Linked DNA regions of Homo sapiens. The protein of the gene in region 1 interacts with the protein of each later gene in a biochemical or structural test. Each region holds a gene or a part of one and is shown in the gene's direction. Other genes may lie near its edges. The genes, in order: CDK8, MBP, WDR77, TCEA1, CTDP1, SMAD1 and ESR2.

The links.
Region 2: of the proteins of CDK8 (region 1) and MBP, one has a biochemical effect on the other in vitro, tested with the Homo sapiens proteins (one study listed by BioGRID).
Region 3: the proteins of CDK8 (region 1) and WDR77 form a complex in vitro, tested with the Homo sapiens proteins (one study listed by BioGRID).
Region 4: the proteins of CDK8 (region 1) and TCEA1 form a complex in vitro, tested with the Homo sapiens proteins (one study listed by BioGRID).
Region 5: of the proteins of CDK8 (region 1) and CTDP1, one has a biochemical effect on the other in vitro, tested with the Homo sapiens proteins (one study listed by BioGRID).
Region 6: of the proteins of CDK8 (region 1) and SMAD1, one has a biochemical effect on the other in vitro, tested with the Homo sapiens proteins (one study listed by BioGRID).
Region 7: the proteins of CDK8 (region 1) and ESR2 form a complex in vitro, tested with the Homo sapiens proteins (one study listed by BioGRID).

Annotation. Positions count from the first base shown.
Region 1 is NC_000013.11:26,400,629-26,404,128, forward strand, and holds part of CDK8 (cyclin-dependent kinase 8), read left to right. Parts: intron 1-640; coding exon 641-719; intron 720-837; coding exon 838-996; intron 997-3,327; coding exon 3,328-3,453; 3' UTR 3,454-3,500.
Region 2 is NC_000018.10:76,978,333-76,980,558, reverse strand, and holds the end of MBP (Golli-MBP), read left to right. Parts: exon of another isoform or gene 1-87; coding exon 88-132; 3' UTR 133-1,726; downstream 1,727-2,226. UniProt on the Homo sapiens protein: The classic group of MBP isoforms (isoform 4-isoform 14) are with PLP the most abundant protein components of the myelin membrane in the CNS. They have a role in both its formation and stabilization.
Region 3 is NC_000001.11:111,439,390-111,442,823, reverse strand, and holds the end of WDR77 (methylosome protein WDR77), read left to right. Parts: intron 1-62; coding exon 63-171; intron 172-694; coding exon of another isoform or gene 695-730; coding exon 731-799; intron 800-1,434; coding exon 1,435-1,594; 3' UTR 1,595-2,934; downstream 2,935-3,434. UniProt on the Homo sapiens protein: Non-catalytic component of the methylosome complex, composed of PRMT5, WDR77 and CLNS1A, which modifies specific arginines to dimethylarginines in several spliceosomal Sm proteins and histones.
Region 4 is NC_000008.11:54,015,949-54,019,448, reverse strand, and holds part of TCEA1 (transcription elongation factor A protein 1), read left to right. Parts: intron 1-3,500.
Region 5 is NC_000018.10:79,714,303-79,717,802, forward strand, and holds part of CTDP1 (RNA polymerase II subunit A C-terminal domain phosphatase), read left to right. Parts: intron 1-188; coding exon 189-1,226; intron 1,227-3,232; coding exon 3,233-3,374; intron 3,375-3,500. UniProt on the Homo sapiens protein: Processively dephosphorylates 'Ser-2' and 'Ser-5' of the heptad repeats YSPTSPS in the C-terminal domain of the largest RNA polymerase II subunit. This promotes the activity of RNA polymerase II.
Region 6 is NC_000004.12:145,484,853-145,488,352, forward strand, and holds part of SMAD1 (mothers against decapentaplegic homolog 1), read left to right. Parts: intron 1-3,500. UniProt on the Homo sapiens protein: Transcriptional modulator that plays a role in various cellular processes, including embryonic development, cell differentiation, and tissue homeostasis.
Region 7 is NC_000014.9:64,287,872-64,291,371, reverse strand, and holds part of ESR2 (estrogen receptor beta), read left to right. Parts: intron 1-3,500.

The DNA of each region.
Region 1 (3,500 bases):
TTGCTCCTCCTCTTATATGGGAACCCAAGGAAATCCTTTATGACAAGCAAAAATGAGCTTTGCTGATTAAAGTGTCATTTAGGGGCTTTCCAGTTAAGAGGCATTCCTGTTCATCTCTTGCTTTATGAAATGCTGATCACATTAGTTTCAGTAGTGATCCAGCTATTCAGTGACAGGTTGGTTATGCGTGCTGTAGCTCCTTACTGTCTGCAGTTACAGTTTCATGTTCCAAAATTGCAAATATTCCCAAATGTGTTCCCTATACCATCTTTTGTTTTGTTAATAAATGTAGTAGGAAGGGTAAAACAAAAATTACCTTTGAATGGTGACACATACTTCAGCTAGAATCTATATTTGGTCTGTATTAATAGAAGAGTAATGCTGGGATAAAAGAAGAAAGCTGAATCATACTCGATGATTATTGATCATTTGTATACAGCTCAAGCCCTCAAGTAGCCTGCTGTAATATTACTAGTTACAAAGAAAAGATTCGTTTTGTCACAGTTACATGAAAGGTGCTTATATTTGCAAATATGGAGACAAAGTTCATCTTAAAAGATTAAAATGAGAATCTCCTAAATGAAGCATTTGGAATATTGATTAGTATACCAGAAATGGTTTTTCTTTTTCTTATGATCAGCGTTTTTGCCGGTTGTCAAATCCCTTACCCAAAACGAGAATTTTTAACGGAAGAAGAACCTGATGACAAAGGAGACAAAGTAAGTATTAAAGTACTGTTAGCAGCTTCTTGTTTCGTGAATGCCTCCATAACATTTTCCATTGTGGGTATATTTTGTTCTCCCTCTGAGCTGAACTTTTTCTGTTTAACCAATTGAGAAGAACCAGCAGCAGCAGCAGGGCAATAACCACACTAATGGAACTGGCCACCCAGGGAATCAAGACAGCAGTCACACACAGGGACCCCCGTTGAAGAAAGTGAGAGTTGTTCCTCCTACCACTACCTCAGGTGGACTTATCATGACCTCAGACTATCAGGTATTCCAAGTTTATTTTGTATTGACTGCATGTCAGTGTTTACATATGGGTTTATGATCGTGGGAAAATGTGATTTAATTGAGAAATACTGACGTCTGTATACCCAGGGAAATACATTAACATGAAATGTTACTGGCATGGAAAAGTACTGACAGTGGTATGGTAGCAAGGGTTTAGACTTTTGAACCAGACTTGGAATGATCAAATACAAATTATGCCATTTATTAACTGTGTGACCTTGGACAAGTAGGATAATATCTCCTGGCGTTTTTTCATCTGTAAAATGAAACTAGTAAAACCTAACTTGCAGCTGTTGTCAGATTAGACATGAAGTGGCTTGACACCTAGCTTATGGTAGGAGCTTGATAGCTATTGTTTTGGAACAATGTTTCACAGTGATTAAGAACATAGGCTTTCAGATCCCAGTCTGGCCACTTACTTCTCTGTATCCTTGAGTAAGTGATTCAGATGTTCTCAGTTTCCATTTGTAGACTGGATAATGATCAATGTGAAGCTGTAGTAAGGATTAAATGAGATAACTCTGGGAGGTTAAGTGTTGCAGCCATTTCAGGAAACTGAGGCTTGTAGAGGTTAAATAACTTTCACATGGATCCCCAGCAAGCTGTAGATGCAGGACTCATATTTGATCTGACCACAAAGGCTGTTATGTTGCCTGCTTAGGGATCCTATCATGGCATTGTCAGTTACGTTGTGGAAAGACCCTCTTTGAAAATTGTATACCACCTCCTTTTCTCTTCTGCTTATTCTAACCATATTCCCAACTACACAAGGGTTCAGTGTGGGAAGGATACTGAAAATCTGACCAATTAGAATTATTTACACACAAAAAAAAAGAGAGAGAGAAAGAGATGTTATTAAACTGATAAGGTCCCGAGTGCTCGTTACTGTACTTTCAGAATTAGGTATTAACTCTTTCTTTTGGTTAGGGGAGAAGTCCAGCCCATCACACCATGGAAATCACTGTTGTGTGAGTAGTAATTCTCTTCCAGTTAGCTAAACAAGGACACCAAGGGCAGACAGCTGTGGGAGTTGTTGGTTCCAGTATCTTTTTCTTCCTTTCCGGATGGGAAGAGTGCATCTCTCTTGGCCCACAAATGTGTTTGCACACTAAGGTGATGGCATCCTTAGAAGGAAGCAGAGCAGTGCTCTGACCTTCGCTTCTGGAACCGAGAAAATGATGCCATGCTGCTTTGTTGGTGTGATTGTTGTTGGTTTTTTGTGGATGAATTTTAAAATAGTATTTGTGACTATCATTTCATGTGTCCACTCTTTTTAAAAATGTTACCTTTTCTAGGATTGGCAGAATTTGGAATTATATGTCTTATTAAATATGCTTTGAAAGACAGAAGTAATAAGTTCTGGTTAATCTTTTATAGTGTTTGTCTTGGGAGCAAATAGTATGAGAGAGAGGTGTGAGAATGGGAATAATAATCTAACATATCAAAATTAGAGAACCCCAAACCATCACATTCTTTCTCTTTGTGCCATTTTAGAATTGAGAATACCGTCCTTCTTACTGTGGTTATATTTTTACTTTTGTATATAAACTTGTAGCAGAAAATAAGATTCAGTAGCTTAAAGGGGCCAGGCACTGTGGCTCATGCCCGTAATCCCAGTGGTTTAGAAGGCTGAGGGGAAGGATCACTTGAGGCCTGGAGTTTGAAATCAACCTGGGCAACATAGCAAGACTCTGTTCCTTCAAAAAAAATTTTTAAAAATTAGCTGAGCATGGAGGTGCATGCCTATAATCCTAGCAATGATTATACCATTACACTCCAGCCTGGATGATAGAGTGACACCCTGTCTCAAAAGAAAAAAAAAATAGTTTAAAGGGCATAAAAATGTATTAATGCCAAAGAAATGGATTCTGTGATACCTTCTCCTATCATACTCACTTTTACTCTTCAGTCATGTGTGTGGGGGTGAGTTTTCTACTGAAGAAAGCATGTAAATAAGCTTTGAATTTTTTATGTATACATCATTAAGTTTCTGGGTAAACATCTCAAGCAAATTTACCAAGTAGATACAAAACAGCATAAAAAGGGGTTACTCCTGTAGAAAAAAATGTATTTGCACAGCATAGTAATAAGCCTAGGCTTAATATTATTTACTAGCAATATTTCTGACCTTCCTCAAGAGAAGAGGATGTTAAAATATTTGGGGTTTTTGTCTTTAATTATAAAGTTAGTACATAGCACAAAACCTATACATCCTTTCTTCCTTGAAACATAATGACACTTCAGTCACATATTGGGATTGAGCTTCCCCTAGAAGCACCTGAATCACACTTTTCCCTCATCTCCTTTCCAGCGTTCCAATCCACATGCTGCCTATCCCAACCCTGGACCAAGCACATCACAGCCGCAGAGCAGCATGGGATACTCAGCTACCTCCCAGCAGCCTCCACAGTACTCACATCAGACACATCGGTACTGAGCTGCATCGGAATCTTGTCCATGCACTGTTGCGAATGCTGCAGGGCT
Region 2 (2,226 bases), on another chromosome or scaffold:
CATCCACCCGGGACCACAGAAGAGGGGATGCTGGTGTGGGAGGACCCTGCGGCACTCTCGTCCTAACTCCTCTCTCTTCCTTTTCAGGGAGGAAGAGATAGTCGCTCTGGATCACCCATGGCTAGACGCTGAAAACCCACCTGGTTCCGGAATCCTGTCCTCAGCTTCTTAATATAACTGCCTTAAAACTTTAATCCCACTTGCCCCTGTTACCTAATTAGAGCAGATGACCCCTCCCCTAATGCCTGCGGAGTTGTGCACGTAGTAGGGTCAGGCCACGGCAGCCTACCGGCAATTTCCGGCCAACAGTTAAATGAGAACATGAAAACAGAAAACGGTTAAAACTGTCCCTTTCTGTGTGAAGATCACGTTCCTTCCCCCGCAATGTGCCCCCAGACGCACGTGGGTCTTCAGGGGGCCAGGTGCACAGACGTCCCTCCACGTTCACCCCTCCACCCTTGGACTTTCTTTTCGCCGTGGCTGCGGCACCCTTGCGCTTTTGCTGGTCACTGCCATGGAGGCACACAGCTGCAGAGACAGAGAGGACGTGGGCGGCAGAGAGGACTGTTGACATCCAAGCTTCCTTTGTTTTTTTTTCCTGTCCTTCTCTCACCTCCTAAAGTAGACTTCATTTTTCCTAACAGGATTAGACAGTCAAGGAGTGGCTTACTACATGTGGGAGCTTTTGGTATGTGACATGCGGGCTGGGCAGCTGTTAGAGTCCAACGTGGGGCAGCACAGAGAGGGGGCCACCTCCCCAGGCCGTGGCTGCCCACACACCCCAATTAGCTGAATTCGCGTGTGGCAGAGGGAGGAAAAGGAGGCAAACGTGGGCTGGGCAATGGCCTCACATAGGAAACAGGGTCTTCCTGGAGATTTGGTGATGGAGATGTCAAGCAGGTGGCCTCTGGACGTCACCGTTGCCCTGCATGGTGGCCCCAGAGCAGCCTCTATGAACAACCTCGTTTCCAAACCACAGCCCACAGCCGGAGAGTCCAGGAAGACTTGCGCACTCAGAGCAGAAGGGTAGGAGTCCTCTAGACAGCCTCGCAGCCGCGCCAGTCGCCCATAGACACTGGCTGTGACCGGGCGTGCTGGCAGCGGCAGTGCACAGTGGCCAGCACTAACCCTCCCTGAGAAGATAACCGGCTCATTCACTTCCTCCCAGAAGACGCGTGGTAGCGAGTAGGCACAGGCGTGCACCTGCTCCCGAATTACTCACCGAGACACACGGGCTGAGCAGACGGCCCCGTGGATGGAGACAAAGAGCTCTTCTGACCATATCCTTCTTAACACCCGCTGGCATCTCCTTTCGCGCCTCCCTCCCTAACCTACTGACCCACCTTTTGATTTTAGCGCACCTGTGATTGATAGGCCTTCCAAAGAGTCCCACGCTGGCATCACCCTCCCCGAGGACGGAGATGAGGAGTAGTCAGCGTGATGCCAAAACGCGTCTTCTTAATCCAATTCTAATTCTGAATGTTTCGTGTGGGCTTAATACCATGTCTATTAATATATAGCCTCGATGATGAGAGAGTTACAAAGAACAAAACTCCAGACACAAACCTCCAAATTTTTCAGCAGAAGCACTCTGCGTCGCTGAGCTGAGGTCGGCTCTGCGATCCATACGTGGCCGCACCCACACAGCACGTGCTGTGACGATGGCTGAACGGAAAGTGTACACTGTTCCTGAATATTGAAATAAAACAATAAACTTTTAATGGTATTTGCATGGGTGTCTTCTTTTGTGTTCCGGGCTGTAGCACACAGGCCCACATCAAGCGAGAGCCAGGTGTGCAGAGCAAATGTGACTCGGTGCCTCTGGGTCTCCAGGCAGGGCTGCCTGGCGGTGCCTGTTGGAGGGGGCATCCTCATCAGAGGGTCGATGGCTACTGAAGAAAGTGGAACAGAGGTAGTTGTTAGGGCACTGATTCTCTCACCAGGAAAAAAATATTTAGTGTCTCTGAAGACAAGCTTCCAAGTCTGTCTGTGTTCTGCTGTGTGGCTAGTGTACACACCCTGCAGATGTGAACCCAGGAGTCTTGGACGTGTTCCCCTTGCCACCTTTTTCTCTGAAAGCATGAAAGAGCGTGAAGCAATGTTTTACTTATAGTTACCTTTGGTTACAAGAATTTTTCTTCAAAAAGATAGACGAAAGTCTCTTTTGTTTTTTCTTTTTCTTTTGAGACAGGATCTTACTTTGCCACCCAGGTTGGAGTGCAGTGC
Region 3 (3,434 bases), on another chromosome or scaffold:
CAAGTCTTTGGCACAAAAGTCCATGCTCTTAATCACTATGACATGTTCCTTCTCTTCTACAGGTGATGAGAATGGGACAGTCTCCCTTGTGGACACCAAGAGTACAAGCTGTGTCCTGAGCTCAGCTGTACACTCCCAGTGTGTCACTGGGCTGGTGTTCTCCCCACACAGGTACTGTTCTTTGTCATCAGGGGCCTGATGGGTATAAATGGGAACCGTGAGGGTGTGTGTGTATGTTTTCAAAGCATTAGCTGATGAAGTAGTTCCTTAAAGCAGACAGTGTTCTAGCTGAGGTTTCGGAACATCGAAGATCTCTTAAGTGTGAAGTAGAATCCTTTGGGAGTCAAAGGATTTTTCAGATTAGATGGTTTCTGTCTGAAATGGCTAAAATGTGATTTCATTCCTGCCCAACACCCAAAATGGTTAATGTTGTGGGCTTCTAGGACTGTGAGATTGGAAAAGCCTGTGTTTCTGGGTTATTGCTGAAGCTATAGAGAGGGACCAGATGGGGTGGTTAGTTGCCAGGATGGTTGTCAACCCTAACTTTGCTTCATTTCCCTCATCTTTACTTGAAACTTTTAGTGTGGACTTGTAGTAGCCAGATTAGCCAAAAGTGGGAATCAGGCTGCCTCTCCTGGGTCACTTTACAGTGGCGGCAGGGCCGGCCCAGTTAAGGTTTTGTCTTGGGATCCAGGCTGGACCTTTCACAACCCTCTCCTCCATCTGATAGTGTTCCCTTCCTGGCCTCTCTCAGTGAAGACTGCTCACTTGCTGTGCTGGACTCAAGCCTTTCTGAGTTGTAAGTGTGAAGTGGAATCCTTTGGGAATCAGGGAAGGGGAGCAGTGGGTGGGCGAGTCATTTTCCTCTTCAGAAAACTGTGTTGTGCTTTTGGAGAACAGATTCTCCATCTGTATCCGAAGGGACTTGGTAATGGAAGCAGGCTGGCTGTTGACCCTGTCCATTCCTGGGGCACATTCACAACCCCAAGGACAAGCCGTGTCCTTGGTAGAGGGGGGTGGTAGGTGAAATTTTTAAGTCTAGCCCTCCAGCGCTCTCCCACAAGGGGGCGGCAGTCTACCCTCTCACATAAAGAACTGCGTATGAAATGCAGCCTGCTACAGGGTAAAAGGCAGCACCTGGAAGACCTGAATTGTACTTCCCTCCTTGCCGTGATTTGCTGCCTGTTACTGCCCCTCATCACTGTCTTGTTCTATCCAGCATTTCTTCATCTATGAAAATAGAAGACTGGATTGGATGACTGATGACATCCACTGTGGATAGCTACACTGCTATCCTGGCGATGAGGCCATACAGTTGGTGAAATGTGTGTAACACACCCAAAAAATGTGCCCCAGATGTGTTGGGTTCTCTTTTTTTCTCCAGGTCTGCTTTTCTTGTCTCTACTCTGCCCCGACTTTTTTTCTTTCTTCTAGGTTTAGAAGCCAAGCCCACAGAGACTTTGTGAGAGATGCGACTTGGTCCCCGCTCAATCACTCCCTGCTTACCACAGTGGGCTGGGACCATCAGGTCGTCCACCACGTTGTGCCCACAGAACCTCTCCCAGCCCCTGGACCTGCAAGTGTTACTGAGTAGATTGGATTTAAGACAAAAAGCAAGTCCCCCATGAGTGTCCACTTCTTTGCCCTGCCCTCTCAGCTTGTGAGACAACACAGGAGCCTTCTATAGTATGTTGATATGCTAGATCTGTGCCGTTAATAGGCATCGTCTCTCAGCCTGAGGGAGGCTGGATTCTGGGTTCCTGTAGTCACAGGGAGGAAAAGCTTTCTTAAAAATGGACATGTATGTGCGTGTGAGTGTGTGTGTAGATTTATAGTTTTTGGTAGTGGCAGGAATAAAAAAAATCCATCCTACATCTTCCCTAAGCACTGCCTCTCTCTCACCCCCCAAAACAAGTTGACGAAAGGGTTTTATGTAGCTGTCTATGAGGAATTGGCCGTGTCTGGGTGGGTTATGGGATGTGGGCATCCCTGGGTTCTTGGAAGCAGCTCTTATGCTACTCATAGAGATGGGATTGACTTTATTTTTTTATAGTGCTTAATTCACCATTATGAGAAATGCTTCCAGTCACAAAAATGCAGCCCAGCTCACTCTGAGGAAGAAGCAGGACTTGGTACGGTTTTACACAACTCCTTACCATTAAACTGAATCAGAAATCCATTTTCTGGCTGAATAAAAAGTTTGGCTTGCCTGTGTAATGCCCACTCCCTTCCCCCTGGCTCCCTAGTGATGGGACATATATGAGAGAGAAGTGTTTTTCTATCATAGACACCATAGGGGAAAGTTTGGGGATGAAGGAGAGCTTAAAGGTGTTTCAATTAAGTTAGAAAACTGACACAGGCTGTTGAGAATTCTTTGCCACTTTTCCCACCCCAAAACAGCATGGGGCCTGACATCTTCTGCCCTGGTCCCCTTTCTCTTGATGTGGAAAGTCTGAATGCAGTATTTATAGACTTCTAAGGTTTTAAAATCCAGTATCAAGAAGAAAATCAGAAATACTGGTTGGTGAAATAAAGAGTTTAGGCATTGTTGGCCTGTCTTTTTTGAAGCATGTGTGTTATGTGTAGTTAGATATATTTCACTTATGTGAGTCATCATGGTGTTGGTCTTGTAGCCCATTATTTTTCCTGTGCTTCCCCAGCTTCCCAAAGTAGCTAGTTAGAACTTAAGGTAAATATTTATTCTTGGGTTGGTGGAGTGGATATTGCCAGTTAGGAGTCATGGATCAATTACTGATTATATTGAAAGTAAATATAATCAATTATGTACTTTTGAGCTTTGCAGGTTCAATTTAGGTAAAAATCACATTATGAAACTGGGAAAGTCTGAAGGAATATGGGCAAAATATTTCTCAGTAAAGCTTCCATGCTTCACCCTTGACATGATTACCCTTGAGTAAAACATGGGAATTTGTAGTTGTGTGATCCTCTGGCGTTGATGTGGAGTAGGAATAAAGTCTTGCATCATTTTTATAATGTGGGAGGAAATAGAATGGGTAGGTACAATCACTTAAGTTCTGCCTCTCGAAGATAAAACTTTAATTTTGTGGACACTTAGAGAAAGTAAGGGGTGGGGGAGCTTGAGGTGAGTAGGAATTTGCATAGCCCTTTTCTTCCTGGACTTAAGAATGATGGAGAAAAAACTCAGTGAAAGAGATAAGGAAGCAAATGTGTGGAAATGTGTGATAAGGAAGGAAATGTGTCAAGGTGGTTACAATATGGAAGGGAAGCATAGGTTTTTTTTTTCTTTTGTTGAGATGGAGTTTCACTCTTGCTGCCCAGGCTAGTGTGCAGTGGCATGATCTTGGCTCACTGCAACCTTCGCCTCCTGGGTTCAAGCAATTCTCCTGTCTCAGCCTCTTGAGTAGCTGGGATTACAGGCTAATTTTTGTGTGTTTAGTAGAGACAGGGTTTCA
Region 4 (3,500 bases), on another chromosome or scaffold:
ACAGGTGTGCACCACCATGCCTGGCTAATTTTCGTATTTTTAGTAGAGATGGGATTTCAACGTATTGGCCAGGCTGGTCTTGAACTCCTGATCTCAGGTGATCTGCCCGTCCTGGCCTCCCAGAGTGCTGGGATTACAGATGTGAGCCACTGCGCCCAGCCTGAAAAAGTTAACTTTGAAGAGTAATAGTTGTCATCAGAATTGACAAATTTAAGTGCAAATTTAGATATCATTTAAAAAAATATTTTAACATGCTGCTGCTTTACCTGAATAATTTTGTTTTACTAAAACCATAGGTGTCACACTTAACTAAAAACAGCTTACCATTTATTGAGCTATTACTCTGAGCCAGGTATTCTGCTAAATACTTACCCACCTTATCCCATTTATTCCTCAGGCAACTTTGCAAGATGAGTATTATCCTCATTCTGAAAATGAGGATGCTAAGTATTTAGAATAGTCTTAAGCCAAATAGCTAGTGAATGGCCAAGTGAAGATGTGAATCTAAATCTGTTTTGCTCCAAAGCTAGTACTCCTCTCTTAAGCTACAGTGTCTCTCTAGAAGACCCTTGCATCTGCTCTTGAACCATGCATGGATACAATTAAGTGAATACAAAATCAGGAAGTAAGAGTATGAACTTGCTGTTTTGGGGCAGGTGTGTTTCCCTAGTTACCTAGATCAATATCCTGACCCTAGTTCTACCCAAGATGTTGTCCCACATGTGTACTTGATCTCAAGTGCACATGACCAAGCCACAGTGAACCACAGAAAGTAGTTCGAAATTTTTAGGTATTAGCTGTTTTCTGCTTAAGCTGTTTTCTTGTCACTTTGATTCGGTGTCAGTAACCAAGTCTGACTGCTAATGTGGGTTCAAATCCTGGCTTTTCTGAACTTTTCTGAACTTTAGCTGTGTGATTTTAGGCAAGTTCTTTGTCATCACTAAAATGTTTCTCGTCATGGTAAACTGGAGATAATTTAGTAAGGATTAAGTGAATATAAAATGCTTCTAGTGTAGGATTGTGGGCCTAAAGGATGTAATAAGGCCTAAAAAACAATCTGAGGTTGCCTTTCTTTGTAAAGGATTCATTTAGATTATAGAAGGAGGAGTGAGGCAAGGACATAAAGTTTTGAAGTTCATGGAGAGATTTTGTGGGTAGTGCTGAGGTTTATTTATTTATTTCATTGAAGGCTCAAGGTTGAGTGGAATTAAATTGCAGGGAGAGAAATTGAAATTAGATGTTAGAATTTCGTAGGAGCTGGGATACCTGAAATATTGATTTACATTTCCAAGTACCTCAGTTAAAATAACAACTGCAACAAAACTTTGATATCTATATCAGAGTTAGATTAATTAGCATAATTCAAAATTTAGAATGACTATACAATTTTTAATAACAGCTTTATCGAGAAATAGAATTAAATTCATTCTTAAAGTGTAGTTGACTCTTGAACAATGCAAGGGTTGTGGTGCTCACACTATCCCCCCTCCCTACCCGCATGCAGTCAAGTAGTATAACTTTTGTAGTAGTATAACTCATGCAGTCATGTCACTCAGGCTGGAGTGTGGTGGCATGATCTTGGCTCACTGCAACCTCCGCCTCCTGGGTTTAAGCAGCTCTCCCACCTCAGCTTCCCGAGTAGCTGGGACTACAAGTGCGTGCCACCACACCCAACTAATTTTGTATTTTTAGTAGAGATGGGATTTTACCATTTTTCTCAGGCTGGTCTCCACATCCTGACCTCAAGTGATTCACCTGCCTCGGCCTCCCAAATTGCTGGGATTACAGGCGTGAGCCACTGAGCCCAGCCTTTTTTGGGTATTTTTTATAGAGATGGGGTTTCACCATATTGCCCAGGCTGATCTAGAACTCCTGAACTCAAGTGATCTGCCTGCCTTGGCCTCCCAAAATGTTGGGATTATAGGCACTTAGCCTGGGTGACAGAGCGAGACAATGTCTCAAAAAAGAAAAGAAAAGAAATAAAGGAGAGAAAATATGTTTACTGTTCATGAAGTGGAAATGTGTCGTCGTAAAGGTCTTCATCCTCTTTGTCTTCACATTGAATAAGCTGAGGAGAAAGGAAGAGTTGGTTTTGTCATCTAGGGTTGCAGAGGTGAAAGAAAATTCTCAGGTGAATCTGTGCAGTTTAAACCCATGTTATTTGAGGGTCAACTGTTAATTCAGTGGCTTTTAGTGTATTTACGGGTTTGTGCAACTATTACTACTGTATAATTTTAGAACATTTTCATCACTCCAAAAAGAAACCCTGTACCTATTAAGCAGTCACTCCTCATTCAGCCCTCATTTGCCCCCACCAATTTCTCACACGCCTCTGACAGCCACTAATATACTTTCTGTCTGTGTGTTTGCCAAATCTGGAAATTTTCTGTCAGTGAAATTATACAGTATGTGGTCTTTTGTAACTGGCCTCTTTTGCTTAGTATAGTCTTTTTTTTTTTTTTTTTTTTTTGAGACGGAGTCTCATCTTGCTCTGTCGCTCAGGCTGGAGTGCAGTGGCGCGATCTCGGCTCACTGCAACCTCCGCCTCCCAGGTTCAAGCAGTTCTCCTGTCTCAGCCTCCCGAGTAGCTGGGACTATAGGCGCGCACCACCACACCCGGCTAATTTTTGTATTTTTAGTAGAGATGGGGTTTCACCATATTGGCCAGGCCGGTCTCAAACTCCTGACCTCATAATCCGCCTGTCTTGGCCTCCCAAAGTGCTGGGATTTCCACGCGTGAGCCACACCGCCTGGCCTGATTTTTGTATTTTTAGTAGAGACAGGGTTTCACCATGTCGGCCAAGCTGGTCTAGAACTCCTGATCTCAGGTGATCTACCCGCTTCAGCCTCCCAAAGTGCTGGGATTACAGATGTGAGCCACTGCACCCAACCACGATTTGCTTATTCATTCATCATTTGGTGGACATTTGGGCTGTTTCAGCTTTTTGGCTGTTGTGAATAATACTGTTAAAAACATTGCTGTACAAGTGTCTCGCTCTGTCACCCCGGCTGGAGTGCAGTGGTGTGATGGCTCACTGTAAGCTCCGCCTCCCGGGTTCCCACCATTCTCCTGCCTCAGCCTCCCGAGTAGCTGGGGCTACAGGCACCCAGCACCATGCCCGGCTATTGTATTTTTAGTAGAGACTGGGTTTCACTGTATTAGCCAGGATGGTCTCGATCTCCTGACTTCATGATCTGCCCGCCTCGGCCTCCTAAAGTGCCGGGATTACAGGCGTGAGCCACCGCGCCTGGCGACATATGTTTTCATTTCTGTTGGGTGTATACCTCGGAGAATAATTACTGGGTCATATAGTAACTATGTTTAACCTTTTGAGGAACTGCCAGACCTTTCCAGTGTGGCTGCACCATTTTACATTCCAACTAGCAGTGTGTGAGGATTCCAGTTTCACCTCATTTTCACCAATATCATTTGTCTTGATTATAGCCTTCCTAGTGGGTGTAAAGTGGTATTTCATTGTGGGTTTGATTTGCATGTCCCT
Region 5 (3,500 bases), on another chromosome or scaffold:
CCCTGGTCCCACGCACTTCAGGTAAGGGGTGCTCACCCTGTCCGGCCTCTTCACAGCAAGGTTGCCAAGGCCTGGTCTAGAGGGTGGTGGACTTCACAGCCATGGAGAAGGGTGCTGCTTTAACTTGGAACGTTATTTAATGTTTAATGCTAAATTGCGGTAACTTTTCCTTTTGCATGCATATTTAGTAAATCATTCTCGAGGCACTGAGGTCTCAGAGCCATCTCCGCCCGTGAGAGACCCTGAGGGGGTAACGCAGGCCCCTGGAGTGGAGCCCAGCAATGGCCTGGAGAAGCCTGCACGGGAGCTGAACGGCAGCGAGGCCGCCACCCCGCGGGACTCACCCCGCCCCGGGAAGCCAGACGAGAGGGACATCTGGCCCCCTGCCCAGGCCCCCACCAGCAGCCAAGAGCTGGCAGGCGCTCCTGAGCCCCAGGGATCCTGTGCGCAGGGTGGCCGGGTGGCACCGGGACAGCGGCCTGCCCAGGGTGCCACGGGCACTGACCTGGACTTTGACTTATCCAGCGACAGCGAGAGCAGCAGTGAGTCCGAGGGCACGAAGTCCTCCTCCTCCGCCTCTGATGGCGAAAGCGAGGGGAAAAGAGGCCGGCAGAAGCCGAAGGCTGCCCCAGAGGGAGCCGGGGCGCTGGCACAGGGCAGTTCCCTGGAGCCGGGGCGGCCTGCAGCACCGAGTCTCCCCGGAGAGGCCGAGCCTGGCGCGCATGCCCCGGACAAGGAGCCTGAGCTGGGTGGGCAGGAGGAGGGCGAGCGGGATGGCCTCTGCGGCCTGGGCAACGGCTGTGCCGACAGGAAGGAGGCGGAGACCGAGTCACAGAACAGCGAGCTGTCGGGGGTCACTGCGGGTGAGTCCCTGGACCAGAGCATGGAGGAGGAGGAGGAGGAGGACACGGATGAGGATGACCACCTCATCTACCTGGAGGAGATCCTGGTCCGTGTACACACTGACTACTATGCCAAGTATGACCGCTACCTCAACAAGGAGATCGAGGAGGCGCCGGACATCCGCAAGATCGTGCCGGAGCTCAAGAGCAAGGTGCTGGCAGACGTGGCCATAATTTTCAGTGGGCTACACCCGACAAACTTCCCGATAGAGAAGACGCGGGAGCATTACCACGCCACGGCGCTGGGAGCGAAGATCCTCACTCGGCTGGTGCTGAGCCCCGACGCCCCTGACAGGGCCACGCACCTGATCGCCGCGCGAGCTGGTGAGTGCTGCCTCCCTGTGCCCTGGGCATGGTCAGGCCCGCGGGCTCCTTGCAGGCACTCCTTAGAGTTGGCATTGCTGTTTATCTCACTTTCAATTTTCAGAAACATTTCCCAGAATCACCATCTTTTAAGAATAGATCATGACAGTGGGTGAAATTGGAGTTTGGGCACGTTCATGCTTTCAGACCGCAGTCATCGCACACACCATTCAGGGGTGGGAGTTACTCGTGTGTAGAAAGTTCAACCTTCTCCCTGGAGTAAGCCATGGCCGGGTTGGAAAACAGGGAATCAGCGATAGGGACGTAGTGGAGAAATTCGAGGCAGGAACAGGAGTTCGCAGGTAAAAGATTGACAAACCCTCTGAGTTAGAAAACTAAATGCAAGGTTTCAGCTGAAACGTGCACAGAAGGACACGTTGTGGCTGGGAGGGCGGAGGACAGGCCTGCTGTCTCCCGACGGTGAAACCTGTCCCGGACGGGGCAGGCTGCTCTGACATGTTGAAACTTCCGCCGAATAAAACAACCTTTCAGCAATAGGTGATTCTTGAAGGAAGACTTAACACCCCGGTGCTTAAAAAACCCAAATACCTCGTTATTCTAGTTATTCTGTGAAAATGCTCCCATAAGCACCTGGATTTTCCGCGAATGAAGATTGCGGTTTTTCTCCTCCAATCTGCTTCCTGTCCTGGCGGCGTTTCCTGAGAGGGCTTCTCAGTGCGTGGCCCCGCCTCCGGGGCTCAGGAAAGCCTTGTGGGGTGAGCTCATCCCTGTCCACGCACGCTCCCTGACAGCAGGTGTGGTCTTATTTGAGGCCACGGCTCTGGCACGTATCATGGGGCGTTGGACACGCATGTGCTCAGTAAAGCATTTGAATCAAGGGTAAATGGAAGGTTCCATCTCAGTGTGAAATAGCCAGGTGCTAGCTGCAGGGCAGAGGCGGGCTTTCCGTGGAGCCCAGCGAGACCCTTGATCCCAGGAGAAAGCCAAGCCCTGGCCTCCTGTGGGCAGTCAGACCCTTCTCTCCTGAGCGTGGAGCCGGGCCAGGCCGGGGTCCTCCTTGGCCCCTCAGGTGCCTGTCTGCCCTGCCGCGTGTCTGCCCAGCTCCTGACCCTTCTCTCCTGAGCATGGAGCTGGGCCAGGCCAGGGTCCTCCTTGGCCCCTCAGGTGCCCGCCTGCCCTGTCCTGTGAGTGCCCAAGCTCCTGGCCCTTCTCTCGCATTCCTTCCTTCCCCCTGAATTGTGCTCACGTTTCCTTTTTGCTTCTGTGTACGTGGCCTCACTGTTGAGAGGCTTTGCTGAACACATGCTAAGAGAGGTCCTCCTGCTGCTCAGGTCACCCGCTGTGCCCGGCTCCCCGTCTGAGATCCACCCCTTCCCACCATGGCTGCCTATCCCTGGCCTGGCAGATGGGAACCTGCAGTGGGCAGCCCTGGTGGGGTGCAGCCGGGTGAGGGCCCTGGTGGGGTGCAGCCGAGTGAGGGCCCTGAGCCCTAGTGGGGTACAGCTGGGTAAAGGCCCTGAGTCCTGGTGGGTACAGCCGGGTGAGGGCCCTGAGCCCTGGTGGGCTGCAGCCGAGTGAGGGCCCTGAGCCCTGGTGGGGTACAGCTGGGTGAAGGCCCTGAGTCCTGGTGGGTACTGCCAGGTGAGGGCCCTGGGCCCTGGTGGGGTGTAGCCGGGTGGGGGCCCTGGTGGGGTGCAGCCGAGTGAGGGCCCTGAGCCCTGGTGGGGTACAGCTGGGTGAAGGCCCTGAGTCCTGGAGAGGTGCAGCCGAGTGAGGGCCTTGGTGGGGTGCAGCCGGGTGAGGGCCCTGGTGGGGTACAGCTGGGTGAGGGCCCTGAGCCCTGCAGGGGTGCAGTCAGGTGAAGGCCCTGGTGGGATGCAGCCGAGTGAGGGCCCTGAGCCCTGGTGGGGTACAGCCAGGTGAGGGCCCTGGTGGGTGCAGCCGGATGTGGGCCCTGAGCCTCCAGTGCTGGCCGGAACAGCCTGACGCAGCCGGGTCTCCTGCAGGCACAGAGAAGGTGCTGCAGGCACAGGAGTGCGGACACCTGCACGTGGTCAACCCTGACTGGCTGTGGAGCTGCCTGGAGCGCTGGGACAAGGTGGAGGAGCAGCTCTTCCCGCTCAGGGACGATCACACCAAGGCACAGAGGTGGGTCCTCGCTGCACCCAGCAGGTCCGTGCCAGGCGTTCCCTTGCTGGACAGCTGTTGGTTCATGCACCTGGGCAGTGCCCCTCATCACCCGGACGCCCCGCTCATGGCCCTCGTTCTCTTCCT
Region 6 (3,500 bases), on another chromosome or scaffold:
TTTCACTGTATTGATATCTACTGACATGTTATTTCTTTAACTAGTCAAACTTACCAGGCCTATACCAGAAACAAAGATATTTGAATTGAACATATAAACAGTTCAGGAAAAGAAGATCCTTATTTTGCTTAAGTTTCTGACAATCCTTATTTAGCTTATGGATTATCTAGGGCTCTGCTATCCTAGCCATAGTCACACGTAGCTTTTTTTGAAATTTTATTATTCTATTTTTTTGAGACAGGGTCTCTCTGTGTTACCCAGGCTGGAGTGCAGTGGCACGATCATGGCTCACTGCAGCCTCGACCTCCCAGGCCCAGGCAGTCCTCCCACTTCAGCCTCCCAAGTTGCTGGGACTACAGGCACTGCCACCATGTCTGCCTGACTAATTTGTTTTTGTATTTCTTGTAGAGACAGGGTTTCGTCATGTTGCCCAGGCTGGTCTTGAACTCCTGGGCTCAAGCTGTTCTCCCGCCTCGGCCTCCCAAAGTGTTGGGGTTACAGGTGTGAGCCACTGCACTCGGCTACTTATAGCTATTTAAGTTTAAATTAAAATTAAATAAAAATTCGTTTTCTCAGCAGTAGCCGCATTTCAAGTGCTTAGTAGCTGCTTGTGGTTAGTGGCTGCCATACTGGACAGCGTGTATATAGAATAGTTCCATCATCACAGGAGGTTCTGCTAGCCATTGCTGCCCCAGGACCTTTACCTCTTCTCACTTGTTAACTCTACTAATGATTTGTGGAGTCAAAGATGGAAAGACATATATAAACTAATTTTATCACTAACTAGCTGTTCTTTTTAAAATAAAACACAATTTGGAAGGGACAGTTGAAGCTGCTGGATAAAAGGAGTTTGACTTTTCTGTAGATCTTATTTATTATTAGTGTCATCGATTCTAATTTGGTTTAGAGCCTTAGAGAGAAGAAATAATTGTAGCTAACCCTTTTTTCTGAATTTTTACTGTATGTATGCCAGGCATTGTTTATAATACCCATATCTCATTTAAGCCTCAAAACTTCCATAAGTACTATTGTTGTCACATTTTACAGGTAAAGAAACTGAGGACAGAATGATTCAGTATCTTGCTTCAGGAGGTACAGTGAATGATTATGATTTCTAATCTTACCTGGGATATGATCGAGGCAGTCCAACTCTAGAAACTCCATCTTAACTATGTTTTTTGGTCTTTCGTTCAGAAGACCCAAATCATCATTGTTCTGCTGTGCTTTACTATGCCAGTATAGACATGACTTGGCTTGTGTATTTTGTAGGTCTTTAAATAAATTTACCTTCTATTGTGCCTTTCTGGGCTATCTTCTGTCGTTCTTTTGTAAGTGTTTAAGAAAGGAAAAATAATGCTCATCTAAGCAGCACATAATTTGAAGAATAAATCTGGCATGAAAATAATGCATTTCAAAGCCAAATTAGTTTTATCTCTGCTTTTCTGCATAATTCTTGTCACTTTCCTCTTGCATTTTCTTACATAATCACAAACTGATATTAAGTTAGGAGGAAAGTTGTAGTAATTCAGTTTGTCTGTCTTACCAAAATTAGTCTATCTTCCCTGAGCTGTTAAACACTGTAAGAATAGTAATTGCAAATTCATTGGGGATTTTTAAAAAAACATTCAACATCTATTTTTGTAAATGTTTTACAAGGTCAGGGCTGTTTAAGAATCGATGAAACTATGGATCTTGTATCTTCTTATTCCCACCTTCCTATCCCAAAATGCTTATATGTCATGGTGAGTTAATGTGTACACTTAACTATCCAAATCTCATGGTCTTTCGGGTGAAATATGTCCATGGGACTGCCAAGTGCTTTCATAAACATTAAGATTTGTAATTTCCTTTACAGAGAATAGAGATACTTAGTATTAAAAGTTGCTTTAAAGATTTTCTAATCTGGTTGGTTCATATCAAGGTGAACAGTCTGAAGTCCAGAGAAGGTAACTGACATCCAAAGTTACCTGTCTAGTGATTGGAAAAGGGAAAGCCAAGATCTGGACTCCTCTTGGCATTAAGTGCCCTTTTGTTTTCAGGTTTTTTTTCTCCCTACCACGCTCACGATATTTCTGAGGCTTTGGTGTAAGCATATCCAGTGTAATTTAGGGAAGGGAGGAAAGAATTTTTTGGCCTGTTAGCAACTTTTTATACCTAACATTGTTTGAGCTAAGTAGGAATCAAATCTGACAACCAGAGAGAAATGCTTATTTTCTACATATTAAAATTGATTCTTTTTCATTCTGGAGATGGAAAAGAAAAGCCCTATATCTAATTTAATCAATGAGACCTTATTAGAAAATGGGAGATCCAAGATTGCACAAAGTTCAAATTAAAGCAGGCAACTCTGACATCTAGCAAAATATACGAATCTCCTCTTGACTCTCGAAAACAAATCACATTCCTAACCAAAAGCTAAAGTTTGGGGTATTTAGGGAGCTAGGGAGTCCTAGGGAGAGAATTGGACAGGTCTGAGGAGAAAAAGGATAATTTAAATATAAAAAAGTGGAAAAAATCGGTTTTAAGTCATAGCATGTCTTTGAGGTTGATGAAATGTTCTGCTACTTCTATATGTGGTTTTACTCTTTGGTACCAAGATTTTAGGACATACTTTGATAACAAATAGGGGCATGTCCTCTTTGCCCCAATCTGAAACCTCTTGACCCTTTATTTTCCTTTCCTGCTGTTATCTGGTAGTACAAATATTCAGTCTAATCTGTTGATCTGGCATCTGATTTGCAGCAAAAATACCTGAAGTATTTTCATCACTCTGCTGTAGCCACCTTTAAAAAGAAAAGGAAAGAGAAGAAAAAGGCAGAGCCAAATAGTATTAATGTAATTGCTTAAAATCTAAATTAAAATACTCATCTTGCTCTGCGTTATTAAGATGGTGTCAGTTTTAGAGGTGCAGGGCTAGTCCTATATGCAAAACAGTAATGTCTGTAGCTATTGCGGGCTGACTTGCAGAAATGAGCGGCTTCTCTAGAACATTCATTTGCATAAAGGAAACTATCTTTCAGAAAAGAAAAGCCAAAAGTTTCATAAGCAGTTTCACTCCAGTGACTACATCAGAGTTTTAGTAAGGTACTGGGAACTACAGTATTTGAACAGTTCAGCATCTTTATAATTTTTGTTATAAGCTAAAATCTGAACTTTAGAGAAGACTCTCTCTTGAAAATAAAGCATTAAATTCTCTAAGGTGTGAGGAAGTCCTTACCTGGTGATTTTCCCAAATCTCTTTTATGTTCTTAGTGTTTGAAAAAGGAACTTTTTTTTTTTTAATAAGAACCTAGGTTTGCAGTATAGATTGGTTTCTTAACAAATATTTTTTTTGAGACAATAAGCCTGGATCTGAAGAAAGAACATACAATTGTTAATTATGCATGTATATGCTTTTGAGTTCAGGATGTAAATGAATATTCACTAGGTCCTGTTTGGGAAGAGGAGGAGAGAGGGGTCTCTCTGTTGATTCAGAATATATTTTTATACATAAGTTTTAA
Region 7 (3,500 bases), on another chromosome or scaffold:
GACAGGTCTTGAAAATGAAGGGCTTTTAGTGGAGAATCTTTGTGTGGGTGTACTTGAGAGAGGGCAGGAGAGTTAGGGTGACCTAGAAAGATAGATTGCTGGACTTGTATATGTTTCCTCAAAGCCAGACTGCAGCATTTTGTTAGTAAATTGTTGTGTGTTCTACTGTCAAACCCAGGCCTGGAAGGGGAGTTGAGTGCATTCAGCCTAACTTCTGGATTGGCTGTGTCATCTTGAATCCCTTCACTCGGAATTCTCTCTGACCCTGTCCCAAATGAATATTTGAATTTGGTCCAGTTCCTACAGAGCATGGTCTGTGGCTGTTGTTGGTGTTAGGGAAGAGCAGAAACTTGCTGTTGAGAGAGAAGACACTTGAGAAGACTGATGAACTCTCTCCCACCCCTGCCTTCGAGGCTTGGTCCTCCTACCCTATTCAAACCCTTGAAACTCTTTCCTATCCAACTAAATAAGCGCCAATTGGTTACTAGGAGAATTAGCTTTTCCTCATTTTAGAAGGAAACAGGGTTTCCTTATGTACATGTTCTTAAGAATTACATGCAAATCAGTTATTAATGATGAGTTCTCTGGTGATTTTGGAGTGTTTTATCTTCCTAATATTAAATTAATTGAGGGCCTTAATATTTTGTTTTGAAAGAATATATTTAAAAAGGCTGGGTGTGGTGGCTCACGCCTGTAATCTCAGCACTTTGGGAGGCCTAGGTGGCTGGATCACTTGAGGGCAGGAGTTCAAGACCAGCCTGGCCAAATAATGAAACCTTGTCTCTGTTAAGAATACAAAAAATTAGCTGGCCATGGTGGCTCAAGCCTGTAGTCCCAGCTACTCAGGAGGCTGAGGCATGAGAATTGCTTGAACCTGGGAGGCCGAGTTTACAGTGAGCCGCGATCATGCCACTGCATTCCAGCCTGGGCAACAAAGCAAAACTCTATCTCTAAATAAATAAATAAATAAATAAATAAGAATACATTTAAAGATAATAATTGGCCAGGTGTGGTGGTTCATGCCTGTGATCACAGCACTTTGGGAGGCCGAGGTGGGAGGATTGCTTGAGGCAAGGAGTTCAAGATCAATCTGGGCAACACAGTGAGACCCTATCTCTACAAAAATTTAAAAATCAGCTGGGCATGATGGTGCATGCCTTTAGTCCCAGCTACTTGGGGGGCTGAGTTTGGAGGATCCCTTGAGCCCAGGAGATCAAGGCTGCAGTAGGCCATGATCTTGCCACTACACTCTAGCCTGAGTTACAGAGCTAGAGTATAACCCCCACCCCCCAAAAAAGCTAATAATTGTCAAACAGCTACTTATGCACATCAAGGATGCTTGTTGCTTAAGAAATCTTTTTAAATCTTTTCCATGAAATTCCTTCTAGTTGCTGCTTTGTGAGCGTGAATTTTTTACTTCTGCAGGACACACAAATGTGGAGCATTTGAACTGAATGCTTGGGAAAGTGTGATGGGCAGGTGGAAGAAGAATAGGGATGAGGACTTATCCTCTATTCTTATCCTCCTAGACTTATCCTCCTAGTCTGCAAGCTTGAGAATATGGCATCAGGAATATGTGGCATTTTGTCCACACACACAGTGTTGGCAGGCTACCAGCAGCCCAGCTATCTGGACTAGGGGTGATGGATTTCTGTGGACAGAAGTCAAAAAGTAAAATTAGGAGGCAAAAATCTTCAGGGTGGCCATAAAGACATTGTAACTTGTCTGGAAATTCCAACCAACACTAAATGTGTATCCAGTGATATACCAATAGACTGGCTTCATCTTCTTGGATGTGTAATAATACCTTACAGAATGCTTTCTTTTTTTTTTTCTTTTTCTTTTTCTTTATTTTTTTTGAAATGAAGTTTTGCTCTTGTTGCCCAGGCTGGAGTGTAATGGCACAATCTCAGCTCACTGCAACCTCCACCTCCCAGGTTCAAGCGATTGTCCTGCCTCATCCTCCCGAGTAGCTGGGATTACAGGCATGTGCCACCATGCCCGGCTAATTTTGTATTTTTAGTAGAGACGGGGTTTCTCCATGTTGGTTAGGCTGGTCTCAAACTCCCGACCTCAGGTGATCTGCCCACCTTGGCCTCCCAAAGTGCTGGGGTTACAGGCGTGAGCCACTGCGCCCGGCCTCAGAATCCTTTCACAGACATCATCTCATTTCACCCTCAGAGCACCGTGAAAAGGTACAGCACCAAATAGGTACCTGATTCTACTGAAGAAGATGTGGCAGCTCAGGGAGTTTGTGGATTTGTCTAAGATTGCCTGGCTTTCAGGCAGAGCTGGGGCTAGAATGAATGTTCTGCTCTATCCATTGATAGAATATACATAAGAACAGGCTTGATGGTGGCTGACCTTTTTTTTTTTTTTTTTTTTGAGACAGAGTTTTGCTCTTGTCACCTAGGTTGGAGTGCAGTGGCGTGATCTCGGCTCACCGCAACCTCCACCTCCTGGGTTCAAGCGATTCTCCTGCCTCAGCCTTCTGAGTAGCTGGGTTTACAGGCAAGCGCTGCCACACCCGGCTAATTTTGTATTTTTAGTAGAGACTGGGTTTCTCCATGTTGGCCAGGCTGGTCCCGAACTCCTGATTTCAGGTGATCTGCCCACCTTGGCCTCTCAAAGTGCTGGGATTACAGGCATGAGCCACCCGCGCCCGGGTGACTGATTTCTTATTAACTAGATTTACAGGTGCTTTGATAAAAACCAGTCTAGTCTTGGCTGGCACGGTGGCTCATGCCTGTAATCCCAGCACTTTGGGAGCCCAAGGCGGGCGGGTCACGAGGTCAAGAGATCAAGACCATCCTGGCTAACATGGTGAAACCCCGTCTCTACTAAAAAATAGAAAAAATTAGCTGGGCATGGTGGCGGGCACCTGTAGTCCCAGCTACTTGAGAGGCTGAGGCAGGAGAATGGCTGAACCCGGGAGGTGGAGCTTGCAGTGAGCCAAGATTGCACCACTGCACTCCAGCCTGGGCAACAGAGCAAGACTCCATCTCAAAAAAAAAAAAAAAAAAGTGTAGTCTTTTTGGAGTGTTTTTCTGCCATTTCTAGGGCCAAACTTTTTCTTGTCCATGAATCATTGTCAAAATTGGGAATTTTAAATACTACTTTTTTCTTTTAATTCAAAAGCCATAGTATGTTTCCCAGCCAGTACATTAGAACACCATGCACGATCCCATGTGTACAAAAAGCTTTCTGGCTGAATTCAGATGTGACCTGAGAGGGCCAAATACAGGGGTGTGTGCTGGGAGAGAGAGAGAGGTCTCTGGACAGAAAACAAAGCCTGTTCACCACCCAGGATATGGACCAACTATTTTAGGTTATGGTGACTAAAGAAAATTGACATGCAAATAAATGAATAATTCTTAGAATCAGGATGTCTGGGTACTGGTTCTTTGGTTGGCCAGGTGAAATTCCATGCCAGGCCCAACAATTAAACTCTTTAGAGACAATTTTTTCCTGTTGTACCAGAACATTGTACTGAGGCCATG